2 separate regions of the Homo sapiens genome follow, and region 1 is linked to region 2. Evidence: fine-mapped expression QTL. A gene starts in region 2. The other region holds a variant in brackets. All regions are shown on one strand. Distances are between the middles of the regions.

What was found. PIP is the estimated chance that this variant, and not a neighbour inherited with it, causes the effect.
Region 1: its variant is fine-mapped to the expression of KEL in lung (GTEx, PIP 0.92).

The regions. Positions count from the first base shown.
Region 1 is chr7:143,291,385-143,300,457 of GRCh38, reverse strand. It overlaps CASP2 (caspase 2), which reads right to left. Exons shown (of 11, transcript NM_032982.4): 2 at 8,768-8,918; 3 at 7,991-8,158; 4 at 7,760-7,841; 5 at 6,134-6,228; 6 at 5,685-5,861; 7 at 407-535; 8 at 164-254. It also overlaps the pseudogene RN7SL481P. Among named protein-coding and RNA genes, the nearest start is that of CASP2, 7.6 kb to the right of the region's middle. The variant T/C (reference allele first, on the strand shown) is at 5,230.
Region 2 is chr7:142,957,082-142,966,154 of GRCh38, reverse strand. It overlaps KEL (Kell metallo-endopeptidase (Kell blood group)), which reads left to right and starts at 3,792. Exons shown (of 19, transcript NM_000420.3): 1 at 3,792-3,951; 2 at 4,283-4,360; 3 at 4,654-4,795; 4 at 5,051-5,227; 5 at 7,727-7,851; 6 at 8,182-8,328. The coding sequence starts at 3,949. RefSeq lists a cis regulatory region at 1,309-1,710, a silencer at 3,833-4,028 and an enhancer at 7,662-8,377.

The DNA.
Region 1 (9,073 bases), 330 kb before region 2:
CATTGGGAGACACTTACAGAGCAAGAGAGGCGGTGGCAGCAGTGAACAGAAGGAGGTGCCCAAGGGATCCAATAGCACCTGAGAGGAGCAAACAGGAAAGTGAGAGCTGGTGGGAGGCTGCCCAGGAGCCACCACCCAGGTGCTGGTCTGCTAGGGCACTCACCTCCACGGCAGGCCTGGATGAAGAACATTTTTGGTTTGTTCTGTAGGCTTGGGCAGTTGGCGTTGTCAAAGAGCTGAAAAACCTCTTGGAGCTGCCAGAAAGAAAGAAGGAAGAAGAGAGGTTAAGCATTCAGCGGGGCCTCCTAAGTCCTACACATGCAACAGTAGCCATCACTTGACAGACAGCAGGCAGGAGGTAAAGCAGCCTGGTTTCAACAGTTGGCTTCCACCAGGGTATCCGCACCTGGAGCAGTTTCCCATCCACACCATAGATGGCGCCCTCCACACCATGCGAGAGGAGTGCCACGATGCAGGAGTCCGTGACTCGGTGTGCAGGTAACTGTGCAAAATTCTGCAGTTTCTCTTGCATTTCCTAAAAGAAAGGAATGTTTAGTGTTGTGCACTAAGGTCAGCACCAACATAAGCATCAAAGTTTGGTTTCTTTTTGAAACCCTAAGCTATTAGAAGATAAAACGCTTTATGTATATTCCTGTGGTCAATGATAAAAGAAGAGACCTTTTGAGAGACTAAAGAAAGCTATGGACTCACCAGAAAAATGCATATGAGTTCAGACACAATATTCTGAATACAGATTCAGACTCACTGAGATAGGCAAACAGCTCCTGGATTAAAGCAAGTTACTAAAGAAGCTAATCATGAGCTGGTCAACTCTGATTAATTCCCTGTTCATAACCAGATCCTTCATTAGAGCAACTGCCCTTGTATATAAATGGCACAAGGGTGACTCAAAGTGTAGCTATGAATAAGTAACATGCACATTCAGCTACACGAAAATAAACTGTTCTGTGACAGCATCATGATAGTAGAGAATAGCAATACTTGTATGTTGTCTTCTAAGATTCTAAGTGTCCAAGAGATAATGATGATGACTGTATAAAATGCTTTGTTTCAGAAAGAGCACGCTATGAAGGAGGATTCTGTACAGGGCAGTAATTACATACACAGGTCCTGGGTTCAGATTAATCTAGGTTTGAACCTTGGCTTCATGAGTTGGAACAGCTTACTCAGACCCTTGAGACCTCACTTTTCACTTTATAAAAAAAAATTATGAGGATATTTTCTCTAAGTTTGTGAAGATAAAAATGAGATATTATGACAAAGGACTTGGCCTGGACAACCTAGCAAGACTCCATCTTTAAAAAAAAAAATTAGCCAGGCATGGTGGTGCATGCTTATAGTCCCAGCTACTCTAAAGGCTACGGTGGAGGGATCACTGGAGCCTAGGAAGTTGAGGCTGCAGTGAGCTGTGACTGCACCACTGCACTGTAGCCTGGGTGACAGAGAGAGACCCTGTCTCAAAAAAAAAACCAAAAACCGATCACTGTGTCTGGGACACATTGCAAAAAATGTGCCATTACAATGTGCATGTCGAATAAAGAGTATTTTTCTCAAAGAAATCTATTACTGGTCAATGTTGTAGTCCAACTTAAGAACTGTTTTCCTGTTTATCTTTTTTTTTTTTAGACAGGATCTTGCTATATTGCCCAGGCTTGAGTGCAGTGACTATTTACAGGTGTAAGATCACTACTGATCAGCACAGGAGTTTTCACCTGCTCCATTTCTGACCTGGGCTGGTACACCCCTCCTTAGGCAACCTGGTGGTCCGCCACTCCCAGGAGGTTACCATATTGATGATGAACTTAGTTTGGACACCTGATCAGCATAGCACACTACAGCCTAGAACTCCTGGGCTCAAGGAATCTTCTTGCCTCAGCCTCTAGAGTAGCTGGGACCATAGGCATGTGCCACCATGCCTGGAGAATCTTGTTTATCTTGCACTAAGTTGCGATACATGAAGAGCACTACCTTAAGCATTTGGTCCATCCATCAGAAGGTTATACTGTGTACCTAAAGAGCATAATAATTGGGCACACATGTTTAAACCTATGCCTCCCTCTATAATTCACGATGTCTGGGTCTTCTGAGATGGGCAGAAAGAAAACAAGTTCATTTTATTATAAACTTGAATAAAATGTAATGAAAATAAGTAAGTTATCTGGGTGGAAGAGTTAAAACACACATATATTTAATCACACACACTGCCAAAATAAAAAGCACACTTCTATAATATAACATATTGCAGTAGTTCTCAGAGTGGCCCCTAAAGCAGCAACAGCAGCATCACCCAGGAACTTGGAAGAAACGTGAAATCTTGGGCTCCAGCAAAATGTGTTTTAACAAGCCCTCCAGGACACTGTGATATGTTAAAGTTTGAGAGCTACTAATTGATCTGTTCGGAATACTTCTGTTTGTAGATAATTGAGATGCAATTACATAAAATATTTGAAAGTCTGCAATATAACTAGAAATAAAGAGACTGGTGTTGTTGAAAAGTATCTGTATTTTCTAAGTAGAAGCAAACCATAATAATAGAAATCTTAAGGTAATGACAGATAATCAAAAAATTCTTTCAAGAATATATAATTTCAAGAGAATACATAACTGTGAATGTTCCTCTGGAGCTGATGCTAATAGAATTTAACATTTAATAGTTAAAGAAGTTAATTTTGCTCAAAGAAGAAAACAAAGGCCGGGCGCGGTGGCTCACGCCTGTAATCCCAGCACTTCGGGAGGCCGAGGCGGGTGGATCACCTGAGGTCAGGAGTTTGAGACCAGCCTGACCAATGTGATGAAACCCTGTCTCTACTAAAAATACAAAAATTAGCCGGGCGTGGTGGCATGCGCCTGTAATCCCAGCTACTCAGGAGGCTGAGACAGGAGAATTGCTTGAACCTGGGAGGCAGAGGTTGCAATGAGCCCAGATCGCGCCATTGCACTCTAGCCTGGGCAACAAAAGTGAAACTCCATCTCAAAATAAAAAAAAAGAAAACAAAAATTATATACCTGGGCACCGAATCACGAGCATTTTGAATTTAGTGAGATTAGGTCAGTAAATAGAAAACAATGTCCAAAAAAAGAATACACGCACTTTGTAACCAAACTTAGTAAGACTAAACCATTCAATAAATGGGGATTAGACATTTGGAGGAATTTTTCTACAAGTAGCATAGCTTAAAATAGGATCTGCAGATTTGTTTTTGATAAAATTACAGTACTTCTATAAATAGCAGGGTTCTTAACTCCTAAGTGTATTTTTGGCTAGGGGTTGGGGGACATGTGAAGAGAGTAACTTGTGAACCCTCTGAAATTATATGCTAAATTATATGGGCAGCTGCATTTTCCAGGGATAACCCATAGCTTGTCCTTACATTTTCAAAGCAGTTTGTGACCCAAATGCAAGCTAAAAAAACAATACCACATGGTAAAAGGAAATTTCCACTTTGAAGAGTACGTTTCCTAACATAGGGTAAATCATAATTCTAGAACTAGTAACCTCATGAAGTAGATGCAATAAAAACTTAATAACAAAGAGAAAAGTGAAAACATCTGGGCAGTGAGAATACCCATGTTCACTGCAGCACTATCAGGGGAAGAGGAGTCTCTAAGACTAATTATACTATTTCCTGTTTTTAAATGGAATTCCTCTCTTAAGTAAGAAAGATTTGATAGGGAAAGAAAAAAGGATCTTTTTTTTTTTTTTGGTTCTGTTTCTTTGCTTGCCAAATAGCTATATGATAAACGAGTTGACTCTCTAGGGAGATCCCACCAGGAAGAGAGCATTCTGTGCAGATGCCCAGTGTACCAAATTATGACACCCATTGCAACTACCTGGTTTATAACACACACATTTCTTGTCCACATACTGTTCTCCCTGCCTAGGGTGGCTTCACCACTCCTCTCTGCTTCAGTAACTTCTATCCTTCAAGGCCAGCTTAAGTTCTGCCTCCTCCACTTATCCTTCTGATCATATCTACCTAGGCGCTTCTTCTTCTTAGCTATGACAGAAGATTTTTTCTCTAATCTTGTTTGGTCGTTAGGAATATAAGAGGACACACTTCCTTTTATGCTGATGTCAAAACTCCCTCATCTGATCTTTAAAATCTGTGGCAGCTCACATAGTCCCCCATTATAAGGTGCTTGAAGTTCAACTCTACTGCAATTCCAGTTACAGAGCAATTCAACCAAAGAATTAGAATCCAATAGGTCACTGAATATGCATCAGGCTTACCATAAATGGAAATGCTATTTATGAAGTGAGCTCATAAACTCACCAAATCTGACAGTCTCTGAGAAAACAGCAGTATATATAGTTGACTTAGTGACTCAGTATTTTATCTTTAACTATTAGACATGTAAGATCCTTTATCAGCTGCATACAACTTGAAAAACCATGACATAATAGATTTCTAGTAAAAGACATGGCTAGACCAAAACCTCTAAGAAAACACACACACTGCACATTTTGTTAAGTGACCTTCTGTAGGAATTATGGCTGGTACCCTGCCCTTTGCCCCTTTATGCCCAGCAGACTTCTCAGGAAAGCATATAAACTACCTGAATACTTGATGACTGAAGCAGCTGTTGCTGCCATGGCTTTGAAGCAAGGGTGGATTTAACTACATTGCATATGCTACAAGGGGGAAGCTGGCAAAAATAGCATGTAAAGGACAACACCCAGGTACCTGTGGATGAAACTGGCCTTGCCAAAAATATAGTAAATACATAATTACTCTCACAGAAGGAGGGCAGCTAAGAAAGAGAAATGAAGACTACAGACAATGCTGAATGGAAAACAAAGATCCTCTATCCCAACAGATCAAAGTGAATCTCCTAGCAATTTTAATTTCACCACTGACAACCTCAAAGCAAGTTGAAGAAAGTTCTACTATTCTGGAATCAAAATAAAGAGTGAATATGAATCTACAAATAGGCCATTATTGATTGCAAAATAGAAACCCTAAAGGTCACAAAGTCAGTTGTGCAGTACAGTAACTGAGGTTAATGACGAACAGCCCATAATGAAAATGTTTACAATTTCTAGAAATCTGGTCCACAAACAATCTACCCTATGACTTGTGATTACACAAATGTTAAGAATACTTTCCCAGCCAGGTGCCGTAGCTCATGCCTATAATCCCAGCACTTTGGGAGGCCGAGGGGGACGGATCACCTGAGGTCAGGAGTTTGAGACCAGCCTGGCCAACA[T/C]GGCAAAACCCCGTCTCTACTAAAAATACAACAATAAGCCAGGTATGGTTGCATGCGCCTGCAGTTCCAGCTACTCAGGAAGCTGAGGCAGGAGAATCGCTTGAACCTGGTAGGCAGAGGTTGCAGTGAGCCGAGATCGTGCCATTGCACTCCAGCCTGGGTGACAGAGCTAAACTCTGTCTTTAAAAAAAAAAAAAAAAGTGAGACACCAACTGTGGACTATTATTACTTTATGAAACCACAACCTGAGATGTCAACACTAAAATGGCTGGCCGGCCCTAATTCTTTCTTACTAGAATGCAAGGTGAGAGGCAGAACAGAGTGAGTAAAAATGTAAGTAGAATAAACCAACTTTTAAGACATATCCCAGCAGGCACAGGAACAAACGATGTCTCTGGTCCCAAAGTGTTGTTCAGTCCTCTAATTTACATGTCAATTTTTCCCACCTCAGGTACCTGTGCAGTCTGGTCACATAGAACATGGACGTCATAGCCCAAAAGCTTGAAGAGGGTGACTAGAGTACTGTGGTCCACATCCCCTCCAGAGCGAAATTCCAGTTCTTTCTCTCCAGTGAAGTGCACATTGCTCAACACCAGTGCTAGGCCACGAGGCCGAGACTGCAACCTATATGCCTGTGGAGGAGAGGCCAGTTAGACCATGAGCGTCTTGATAACAGATGATTCCTCGGCTAGATTAGACATTTCAAGAAAACAAAGACATCGTATTTTTCTTCTTAACCTCCAGCAGGTAAAAATAGACAAATGCTCACAGAAGGCATTTAACCAGTAACAACTTTCTGACTAATAAGGCAGAAAGGAAATGTACATGCAAACTAAGTTCAGGTTCCCAGGAAGGGTGTCTAATTTCCCAACTCTCTTCCTCTTGTCATTATGCAAAAACTCACCAGCTGGAAGTGTGTTTGATAAAATTCAGGAGTGCAAGGCTTCACCTGAAGGCAGACAGGACCATCTTTATTGTCTAGGGAGTGTTCCACAGTATCTGTGGTATAGACAGAAAACCAAAAAACTAGTATATAACTTAACCATCAATCTTAATATGTCATTGTAACTTCAGACATCTCTTGCAACTGGGTTGTGATAAATATTGGTCTCACTCACTACCCAAACCTGTAAGCTTCATGAGGGCAGAGACTCTTAGTTTTAGCTCACTAAAGGATTCTCTGCACATAGCCTGCATGAAGCATATGCTCAACTGGCTGAATGACCGAATGGGCTAGCTGATAAAAGCCTCGTTCCAATCACTAGGATGCTCCATCAGCAGGCTGGTGGCCCCAAATGTAGTCTTTTCTTATTCAGCTTTTTAGAGGCCAATTGAGCATGAACTTCCTGCCCATACATGCTACTCAAAGGCCCAATTATCACAAAAACTGTTATCTGGGGTGGAAGGGAAATGGACCAACTATTAATAACACCTTGCCTGGGCCGGGCGCAGTGACTCATGCCTGTAATCCCAACACTTTGGGAGGCCGAGGCAGGCAGATCACGAGGTCAGGAGATGGTGAAACCCCATCTCTTACTAAAAACACAAAAAATTAGCTGGGTATGGTGGCACGCACCTGTAATCCTAGCTACTCAGGAGGCTGAGGCAGGAGAATCACTTGAACCCAGGAGGCAGAGTTTGCAGTGAGCCGAGACTGCACCATTGCACTACAGCCTGGACGACAGAGCAAGACTCCATCACAAGAAAAAAAAAAAACAAAAAACCACAAACTCCTGCATAAACTGTCCTACTAGCCCTTAACAAATTTACTGACAACTGTTCCCAATATAAACTATGTCTCAGCTGGGCATGGTGGCTTACGCCTATAATCCCAGCACTTTGGGAGGCCAAGGCGGAAGGATCATTTGAGGCCAGAAGTTTGACACCAGCCTGGGTAACAAAGTGAGACTCCTTCTCTACAAAAAATTTAAAAATGAGCTAGGTGTGGTGGCATGCACCTGTAATCCCAGGTACTTGGGAGGCTGAGGCAGGAGGAGCCCTTCAACCCAGGAGTTCAACGCTGCAGTGAGCTATGGTGGTGTCACTGCATTCCAGCCTGGGTGACAGAACAAGACCCTATTTCTGAAAAAAAACACAACAAAAAAAAAAAAAAACAAAAAAAAGGGCTCATGTTAGGACAAAGCCAGATACCAGACAAGAAAGGGGAAGTCAATCTGGGACACCCCCCTCCTTTTTATTTTATTTTATTTTATTTTTTGAGACTGAGTCTCACTCTGTTGGCAAGGCTGGAGTGCGGTGGCACCGTGTTGGCTCACTGCAACCTCCGTCTCCTGGGTTCTAGCAATTCTCCTGCCCCAGCTTCCCGAGTAGCTGGGATTACAGGCACCCACCACCATGCCCAGCTAGTTTTTATATTTTTAGTAGAGACGGGGTTTCACCATGTTGGCCAGGCTGGTCTCGAACTCCTGACCTCAGGTGATCCACCCGCCTTGGCCCCGCAAAGTGCTGGGATTATAGGCGTAAGCCGTGGCACCTGGCCTGGGACCCCTTTTAGTCCATCAATTCTCACCTGTCGACAGGCGGAGCTTCTTGTAAAGGGGACAGGACTCACACACCGGAAAAGGGAGACTCAAGTCGTAGTCACAGCTCAACTGTAAGAAATCAAAACTCATGATGACAGACCTTAGGGAAGTGGTCCGGTCCAAATACAACAAAATCTAGTCTCCCTCACTCTGACTTACAAATTCCTTTCCAGTCAAACTAACCCTTCCCAACACCCCATATTACTAAAGCTTCATACCGGTGGGAGTACATGCTGAAGCCCAGAAAGGGTGGTGAGCAACATATCCTCCAGGTGGCCTTGCTTGGTCTCCCTCAGTGCTTCACAGAAGGCATCAAAAGCTTGGGGACCCCTCTTAGGCAGCAAGTTGAGGAGTTCCACATTCTGGCTGAAACTGCCCACTTTGGCCTAAGACACAAGAATAAAACATGAAATCATATTTACTTCTCTAGCTATAATTCTATTTCTCCACATGAGCTTCCTAGTAGTGTCCTCATCCAAGAATTCTTTTTACAGGAAAAGTGTATGTATGGGTGAAGTCCTTTCTGTTATTCTTGAGTTATATATCATTTCTCTCAAATGCTCTACGGTAGAAGGGCATTTCCATTTCTTTAGAAAGGTACAACATCCAGCTGGGTGTGGTGGCTCACACCTGTAATCCCAGCACTTTGGGAGGCCGAGGCAGGTGGATCATGAGGTCAGGAGATCGACACCCTCCTGGCTAACACAGTGAAACCCTGTCTCTACTAAAAATCCAAAAAATTAGCCAGGCATGGTGGCACCTGCCTGTAGTCCCAGCTACTTGGGAGGCTGAGGCAGGAGAATCACTTGAACCTGGGAGGCAGAGGCTGCAGTGAGCCAAGATCGCGCCATTGTACTCCAGCCTGGGAGACAGAGACTCTGTCTCAAAAAAAAAAAAAAAAAAAAGGAAGAAAGATACGACACCCTTTCCATATTTTGTCATGCTCTATTCCCACCCCATGATCAATTTATCTTCTCTCTTTTGCCTCCAGATACCTGGATGAGCTCCCTCATTTCCAAGGTGATGATGTCCTTCTCCAGAAGATGTTCTAACAATTCGCTCAACAACAGCTGTTTGGCTAGCACCACTCGGTTCTTTTTTAGAGTTTCCTGATGATGAGGATGCATGCCACACACTCCCAATATCCTACAGATAAACGGTAGAAGGAAAGGCTGTCAAGTCACAATTTGACACAGAAGAGTGGAGTGGAAGAGGCATGAATAGGAAGAACAAAAAGAATAAGACTTACAATAACCAAGATTATGCATATTTCTTAAATCTGGTTAAAGCAAAGATGTACT
Region 2 (9,073 bases):
ATTGGACCAGGTGCAGTGGCTCATGCCTGTAATCCCAACACTTTGGGAGGCCAAGGCCAAGAGATCGAGACCATCCTAGCAAACATGGTGAAACCCCGTCTCTACTAAAAATACAAAAATTAGCTGGACATGGTGGCGTGCACCTGCAGTCCCAGCTACTCGGGAGGCTGAGGCAGGAGAACCGCTTGAACCCAGGAGGCGGAGGTTGCAGTGAGCCAAGATCACGCCACTGCACTCCAGCCTGCTGACAGGGCGAGACTCAGTCTCAAAAAAATATATATATATATTATATATATTATATGTATAATATGTATTACATATATAATATATATAATATATATATAATATAAATATATATATAATATATATAATATAAATATAAATATATATATAATATATATAATATAAATATATATTTATATATATACACACACACACACACACACACACACACACACATATTGAAAGAGGTCCATCTACTTATCACTTAAATTATTTCAAAAGCCACTTTGTGGTATACTGAACTTACAAGCTACTCTTTCCCAAAGGAGCTCCCCAATTCTCAAGTATTGCTTCCTTTGAAAGAGCAATCAGTGCACCCCAAAACCTGCCCCCCATGATCTGTTTCTCCATCATCTTCTGGGCAAAGTCCTCAACATTGCTTGTGATGTCAAGGCTTACTTCGGTTCACTCAGAACTGGGTTTATTGTTCTTTAGGGGGTAGCTTCTTAGTGGCTATCACTGCAATCGAGTGATCTTAGAAGCAAATTGCCAGTCATGTGCACACTTGAGAGTGTCACAATAGACAGATTAATGTCCTGTCCTTGATTTTGATACCACATCCACTGTAGATGGCAGCTGATTATGGATAGAACATTGTGGCAAAGGCCATGATCTTCAGATGATGAAACTGGATGTTAGAGAGTTTGAGAATACTAGTCCCCAAAACTGTCACCTCACAAGGCCAAGCAGTGAAACATAGTTTAAAAAGAAGAGTTTAGATGAAGGAAGATGTTTACTATGAAGAAACTTCCAAAAAACAGATACTTAGTGACTGAGAGGCTCAATGGTTAAGGCTTTGGTTCAATTCTCGGTTCTGCTAATTATTAATTTTGTAACTTTGAGTAAGTTCACTGTACTTTCATATCTCTCTGACCGCTCATCTATAAAATGGGGAAAATAAAAGCTGTTATTTCCCTCAGAAAGTTGCTGTGAAGACTGAAGGAAAATGTACAAGCAAAACATTTAGCACATTCCTAGCACAAAGAAGGTGCTCCGTAAAAAGTGGTTATTTTTATTATTACCAATATTTTATTTTGATACTATTATGGCATGAAACAAAACCTCCTGGAATTAAAATAAACAGACAGGACAATTGAGGGCAAGAAGGAGGCAGCATCCGAAAAGATAAATGTGGTCCATGTGCCACAGCTGTTAACACACCTCTTCTCGGGGCTTAGATCTGAGTGAAGGCTGCTGCACTCCCGTGACTGGGTATGGCTGTGCTGGTGATGACTCACCATGGAGTAGGATATGGGTGATAAGAAGAAGTCCTGCTCCTGAGACAGCTCCCAGGATGGAGGTTGCTTGGCCTTCAGGAGGAGGCTGAGTAGGAATGGTGGACCTGGCAGCTGTGCTGCCCTATCCCTGTGGCTGGCTCAGCTTCTCTGACAGGGAGAGAACCTAAGTCCAGGCTGTGGTGGCTGTCCATAGGCAAATGTCACAGAGCACACTCCATCTTCAACTTTCTCTTATCAAATCTAAGTGGTCTCCATTATCATCTTCCTAGGGAAACATCAGCTCAGGGGCTTTGATTGATAGAAAAGGAGTGAGGAAGGGAATATGTGTGAAGGAAGCTAAAAGCCCATGGGGAGAGTATTGGACTTTCTGTGGAAGGGAAGTTTGAAGAGGAGGCACCATCAGGGTGTACCCACACAGACCAAACACCTCTAGAATCCTGAGTCAGCTTTTTCCCCTCACTCTGATTCCTACTCCCCCCTTAATCAAAATTCCATTGTTCGCTGGCATCACTATTCCCCTAGTCATGCAGAAATGCAACTTGGAGCTCCTCTGTGGCTCTATCATAAACCCCTCCTCCATTCAATCCATTGCCATGACTTTATTCCATACAATTTTTCTTTCTACGCACTTCCCTCCCCTCTGCCATCCCCTTGGGCCGGGCCCTCCCTTCATCACTCCTGCAACACCAAACTAACCACTCTGTTTCTTGTCTTTTATCCAATCAGTCCAGATCCCCAATACCACACCGGCGTTTCTTAGATATTATTGTATCTTGCCACACCTTTCCTCAAAAGCCTTATTTTTCCCAATGCTTTCTTTTCTAATGTATGAAGTTCTGACTTTTCTTTATGACTTTCATGATACCCGACCAGCTGGCCCCAGGGGGCACAATGGCTTTACTCCACTTCTCCACACCCACCCTCATCCTGGCAAGTGCACCATGGCCCTAGCACAGTGCTGATGGAATCTGGAAATATCGCCAGGGGATCATTTGCAAGACTAACCTAATAAATTACATTATTTTTTTCCTGGGATGAGGAAACAAGGACAGAGTTGAAACACCTTCCCCCAGAAATGTGCTTGCCTCTCTCAGACCACAGGTAAGGGCTTAATATGATGTGAGAAAGAGGATTTCTGGCTTGGAATGCAATTCATTTCTATTAACATTTAGAAAGCATCTTGGGTGGGCAGGAATGAAAACCAGACACTGTACATGCTATGACATAGTTTTCAATCACTAAGGAGATGAAGAGGCAAGCTATCAGTGTAACAGAAAGCAGAATGAAAGAAAGAGGGGCTCAGTAAAGCCTTATTCTTTTGTAGAAGGCATGAGATCCTATGAGGTAGGCATAGGCAAGTATTACCCTCATTTTCCAGATGACAAAACTTGCTTACCTGCCTCAGAGTTTAAGTGGCTTGTTTATTGTCACAGAGCTAATAATTAGCAGATTAGGGTCTCCTAGCTGGGTGATCTTTTGAATGCATGACTTTGCCAGCAGCCAGCAGAGCTATGAAACACCGAGAGAAACAATTAAGCATGCTTGGGAACAGTGTGAATGGGCATGGAGCTGGGAGGCCTCCTGGGAAAGGTGGCATTTGACCTGGGAATTGATGAATCCCAGAAAAGCCAATCAGAGAGGTGTGAAAACAAAATTAAAATGGAGACTGGGCCTGAAAAATTCCCAGGCAAACAAAGCCAAAGACCTTAAAAATAGCCATATTCTTGCTAAAACTACAAACATAAATTAAACTTAACTTGGGTCAATTTCTGATAAATGCTTACAACAAATAAAACTTAACCCCAGCCAATGATAAGCAGCCAACTAACATATGATTATGTGACTAGGGACTTTCCAAAAAGTTACCTAAAAAATGCAATTATGTAACTGCAAACTAAGCAAATAATGTTTCATTTTGCTTCTATAACTTCCCAATAAATGCTTGCCTCTGACATTTTGTCATCGCAACACTAAACCTTTGTCGGTCTGGTGCTCCCCAATTCATGAATTGCTTCTTACTTAAATAAACTCTTTAAAATTTTACTGTGCCTCATATTTTTTTTAATACAGAAGAAATGAGAGAAGGAAGAATATTTTAGAAATAAAGGAACTTCATGGGCAGAGTCACAGTGCAAGACAAAAGGAGCAGACCAAGGGCAAGATTGCTTGGGGAGTGAAGACTCCCTCCCTCTTCTCCCCTGAGAAGCTGAGATAAAGGGGGAGGAGAAGCCTGGGTGCCCCCCACTGATAAGCAGGCTCCACCCAGAGGCCAGTCCTGTGTGTCTGGGGACAAGGCGAAAGAGCAGCAGAAGTGCCCCTTCTCCAGGATCAAGGAACTGGGGCGGGGGGTGTTTCCTGGACCCCAGTCCTCCGAATCAGCTCCTAGAGTGGAACCAGGAAGGATTCTGGAGCCACAGAAGATAGACAGATGGTAAGTCCCCTTTTGGAGTCAGAGGCTTAGCGGGGAGGGGTGAGGGTGGCTGTGTGCAAAAGTCCTGCCCCCACTGGAGGGGAGGGAATGTAAGGCTTACAGAGTAGAAAGGTGGGGAGAGAGGGAGGTAATGGGAGAGGGATCGAGAAATGGCACATTCAGGGGACAGGTTCGTTCTGAAGCCCATCTGGGAACACTGCTCCGAGATAAAAATATGTGTGTGGGGGCAGGGCAGGCAGCGAGGGTATCAAAATGGCCTGATAAAACTCTCTTCAATGCACCATTTCCTGAACCAGCTTCTCTCTCCTCCTTCTCCCTCCACTCACTTCAGGAAGGTGGGGACCAAAGTGAGGAAGAGCCGAGGGAACGCAGCCAGGCAGGTGGAATGGGAACTCTCTGGAGCCAAGAGGTAAGTGGCCTCCTCTCCTGGGTCTGGAATACACTGATGTTGTCACTCTCGGCTCTAAAATCCCACAAACACTCATCTACTAACTGTCTGCTTCATCCTCACCCAAAACAGTTGACATTCCTTGTTTTCTCATCTCCCAGGAGTTAAAGTAGGGCTGGGTTTAGGAAGAATTGGGATAATTATTTCTGTATAAAGGGACTGTAGCACCAACAGATTCATTCTCTCTCCTCTTCTTCCCATCCCTGTCTCTCAACCCCCATCTTGTATCTTTCACCTCTTGGTTCCTCCCACAGAGCACTCCAGAAGAGAGGCTGCCCGTGGAAGGGAGCAGGCCATGGGCAGTGGCCAGGCGGGTGCTGACAGCTATCCTGATTTTGGGCCTGCTCCTTTGTTTTTCTGTGCTTTTGTTCTACAACTTCCAGAACTGTGGCCCTCGTAAGCAAGATCCCAGACCCCCTAACCTAGTCAGCCCTCCCCCAGCCCTGGGGCCCAGGCCCAGTCCCTGCTCCTGGGGCTTCTGCCCACCCTGACCCTTGGGGTCCCCATGGTTCTTCTTCCTCCCTGCATCCTAACCATTTCTTTTTCATCAGCTCCCCACTTAGTTACTCACCTGATGTTCTTTGCCTAGCCCCTTGGGGGAGCCCTTGTCTTTTTGCCTCTTCTTTCCCAGCTCTGAGCTTTTCCCCACAGGCCCCTGTGAGACATCTGTGTGTTTGGATCTCCGGGATCATTACCTGGCCTCTGGGAACACAAGTGTGGCCCCCTGCACCGACTTCTTCAGCTTTGCCTGTGGAAGGGCCAAAGAGACCAATAATTCTTTTCAGGAGCTTGCCACAAAGAACAAAAACCGACTTCGGAGAATACTGGGTGAGGAAAGCAGGGTGGAAGATGCTCTGTGCAAGTGGGTGACTCTGTGCCTAAAATGACCATGACTGCTCCAAACCCTGTGTAGTTGTGGAACAACTGATTTGCACCATCCCAGGTGGGATTATACGGGTGGATGATTGGAGATGATGGGGGAGTAAAAGAGGCAGGATGGCGGGAGCTGCCTGGGTTTGCTCATCTCTCACTGTTTCCTGTTGCCTTGCCTTGGGTACCCTTCTTCCGTTTCTCTTGGTCCCTTTCTGCATTTTTTTCTTTATCTAATTTCCATCTTCTTTGCTTCTCCATGTATCCATAATTACTCCATTCTCTCCAACTTGTCCCTTTTAGCAAGCTCCATCTTTGTTGCTTCCTCCAAATGTTCAGTTTCTATCCTATGCATGGTGTTTTCCTCCACAAGCATCTCTTCAGCATCTCCTGCATTTCAATTCTTTTGTCCATCACTCTCATTCTCTAACCTCCAAAACCTCAGTCTCCCAATGACTCCTTGTCAACATTACCCTCTCCCTCTCACCATGCCGGAGCTCCCCTCTCTCACAATGATCTCTTGCTTCTTGCTTCTCCATTGAAACCTTGAACCATGGCAAGCAAGTTGACCTGGAACAAGTGGGATGTTAGAGATGGATGATTGGAGATGATGGATGATGGTGGAATGAAAGGGGTAGGATGGTGGGGTGAGAAGTGAGAGAGGGCTTCATCACTGTGCATAAGAGAAAAAGTGGGTAAGTACAAAGGATATGCTGGAAGAAGAGGAGAGCTGAGTTAATTGGCAGTGGAAGTAAAGTTCCTGCAGATGGAGGCTGGAGAGGAAAACTGCCAGGACTGAGAGGAAAACCAGAAGGATGAGCTGAAACTGAGTAGGAGGTTGGAAGTGCGTCCCAGGAAGTTGGTGGATGGTGGTGAGGATTTGGGAATAAGAACATATAAGATAGACATGCATTTCCAGTGCAAGGGAACCTAAAGAATGTGTTGACACTATCAATTAGAATCTGGGAAAAGTAAATGCACCCCTCTGCCCTCTTTTTTTGATGGGGAAAGAGTGGGAGGGGGCCTCTCTTTGGGTAAATGGATACTTTCAGGGAAGGCACAGAGATAAAAAGAAAAAATATGCTCAGGATAAATTATATTGCCTACAATGGGATGAATAGATATCAGGGGGACTGAGGGTGAAAAGAGTGTTAGATATTAGAGGGTGGATGATTCAGAGAGACTTGCATTTGATTATTGTAGTGTGTTTGTTTCCTGGGATCAATGGATGAGGAGTCTGGACTAGAAGAGTCTTCCCCTGTTTCTTCTCTTTGCTAAACCTTTCCTTATGAGTTTTCTTCTCTCCAAATCCTTAAAGTTCTCTAGTTCCCTGAATTTGTCTAATTTCTTCAATCATTTCTTTTGTCTTTCATTTCTCTCTTTTCTCCTTTGCCCATATCCCACTTATTGCTACCTTTCTCCTTTCTTCCCTGTCTTTTCCTTCTTGGTTTCTTCCCCACATTTCTTTTATTTTCCATATTGTCTTCTTCTCCTCATTCTCTTTCCCTGCTTTCATCATTTCATCAAGTTGATCCATTCCAAATTGGGCAGTCCTCTCATCTTTCTTATTTTCCTCATCTCTATTCCTCCCCCTCCTTCCATATTCTGTGGGAGTCTTTCTTTCCTGTAAGCTCCCTGTCTCCCACCCTCCCTCTTTGCCTCTATACCAGTTGCCACTCCTTTAATTCTCCTGCCGACAAAAAGAGTCAAACTCTGTAAAATATTTGAAAAGATTTATTTTGAGCCAAATATGAGTGACCATGGCCCATGATACAGTCCTCAGGAGATCCTGAGAACATGTGCCCAAGGTGGCTGGGGCACAGCTTGGTTTTATACATTTTAGAGAGTCATGAGACATCAATCAAATACATTTAAGAAATACATTGGTTTGGTCCAGAAAGGTGGAACAACTCAAAGGGGTGGGGGTGGCTTCCAGGGTACAGGTGAATTTAAACATTTCCGGATTGACAGTTGCTTGAGTTTGTCTAAAGATCTGGGATAGATAGAAAGGGAATGTTCAGGGTAAGATAAAGATTGCGGAGACCGAAGTTCTTTTGAAGTCTTATAGTGGCTGCCCTTAGAGACAATAGGTGACAAATGTTTCCTATTCAGATCTTAGTTAATCAAAAGATCTAGCTATGTTAATGAGATATGTTAATAGCTAATAGAGATGCTTTACAGATGCAAATTTTCCTCCACAAAGAACAGCTTTGCAGGGCCATTTCAAAATGTGGCAAAGAAACATGTTTTGGGGTAAAATATTTTTGTTTTCTTCTTTGTCTCGTAATGTTATGCCAGAATCAGGTTAGAAAGTAAATCATGTTACATGGGTTAAATAAAACCCATCTGATGAGAACTTATGATATAGGGCATGACTCCCCAGACCCCTTTGATAGGAATTTGGGGCAAGATAAAAAAAATCAGAGTTTAGTCCTCACTCCCATGCTTCCTTTCTAGAGGTCCAGAATTCCTGGCACCCAGGCTCTGGGGAGGAGAAAGCCTTCCAGTTCTACAACTCCTGCATGGATACACTTGCCATTGAAGCTGCAGGGACTGGTCCCCTCAGACAAGTTATTGAGGAGGTGAGAAAAGTTGGGATATTAACTTTTCTGGATACATAACATATGGGACCAATGCATGCTTAGGGCTGCCATTTTTTTTTCTAGAGGGTGGGTCTTCTTCCTAGGGCCCCCCAATTTCTAGGAGGGAGATGGAGATGGAAATGGTTATGCCCTATGAAAGTATCAGGACCTTGGGAGAAGGCAGATAAAAAAGGATAGATGTGGCTTCCTAGAGGAATCGAAGGGCGCAGGGCAGAGGTCAGGCAGTAGCAGCTGTGTAAGAGCCGATCCAGACAATGGGGGATGGGCTCCACGGATCCTTATGCTCAGCCCCCTCTCTCTCCTTTAAAGCTTGGAGGCTGGCGCATCTCTGGTAAATGGACTTCCTTAAACTTTAACCGAACGCTGAGACTTCTGATGAGTCAGTATGGCCATTTCCCTTTCTTCAGAGCCTACCTAGGACCTCATCCTGCCTCTCCACACACACCAGTCATCCAGGTGAGGGATGCACTGGCGAAGACACAGTTGGACCTGGCCTGCCTCCAACTCTAGCCAATCATCCCTTAGAGGAAGGTTGCAGGTTGGGAAGAGAGGACACCTGTGTGATATAGGAAACAACCCTACCTTAAGGGAAAATTATTGATGTGAAAGTCAGGGACATTAGCTGGGGGTGGGAAATGGAGCAGCAGAGCCAGTGCTGGGAAGACAGAAGTAGGCCTGGTCTTTCTTACTGTTAATCTGGATTAGTCTCAGAGCCCCTTAACCAGTCCTCCTATCTCTAGGATTGCCCTCATTTTATTTACTCTTTATTTTTACTAGAGGGAACTTTTCTAAACCAAGGGCTAACTAACTATGCTACTGTCTGTATTTAAATGCTTGTCAGTGACCCAGTGGCTTGCCAGGTCATCAGAATCTAGTCCCTAATCTTTAGTAAAGCTTTGCAAGCACCTTGTGATCTGACCCCTACACACTTCTCCAGCCTTATCTCCCGTACATTCCTTCTCTCCCTTACCCCCAAGCCATGCTGACTCACTGCTGCTTCCAGGAATATTCCTCAGTTCTTTGCCTATGCTGCTCCCTGTGCCTGCAACCATCCCCCACACTGAACCTGGAAAACTTACATGTTTTTCAAATGTTGGCTTTATTATCTCTTCCAGGAAGTCTTCACCGACACCCTAGTTATGAGTTAGGTGAAGCCCTGCTCTCCCTACTTTCGTTTCCTCATGCTCTCAGCATTTATCAC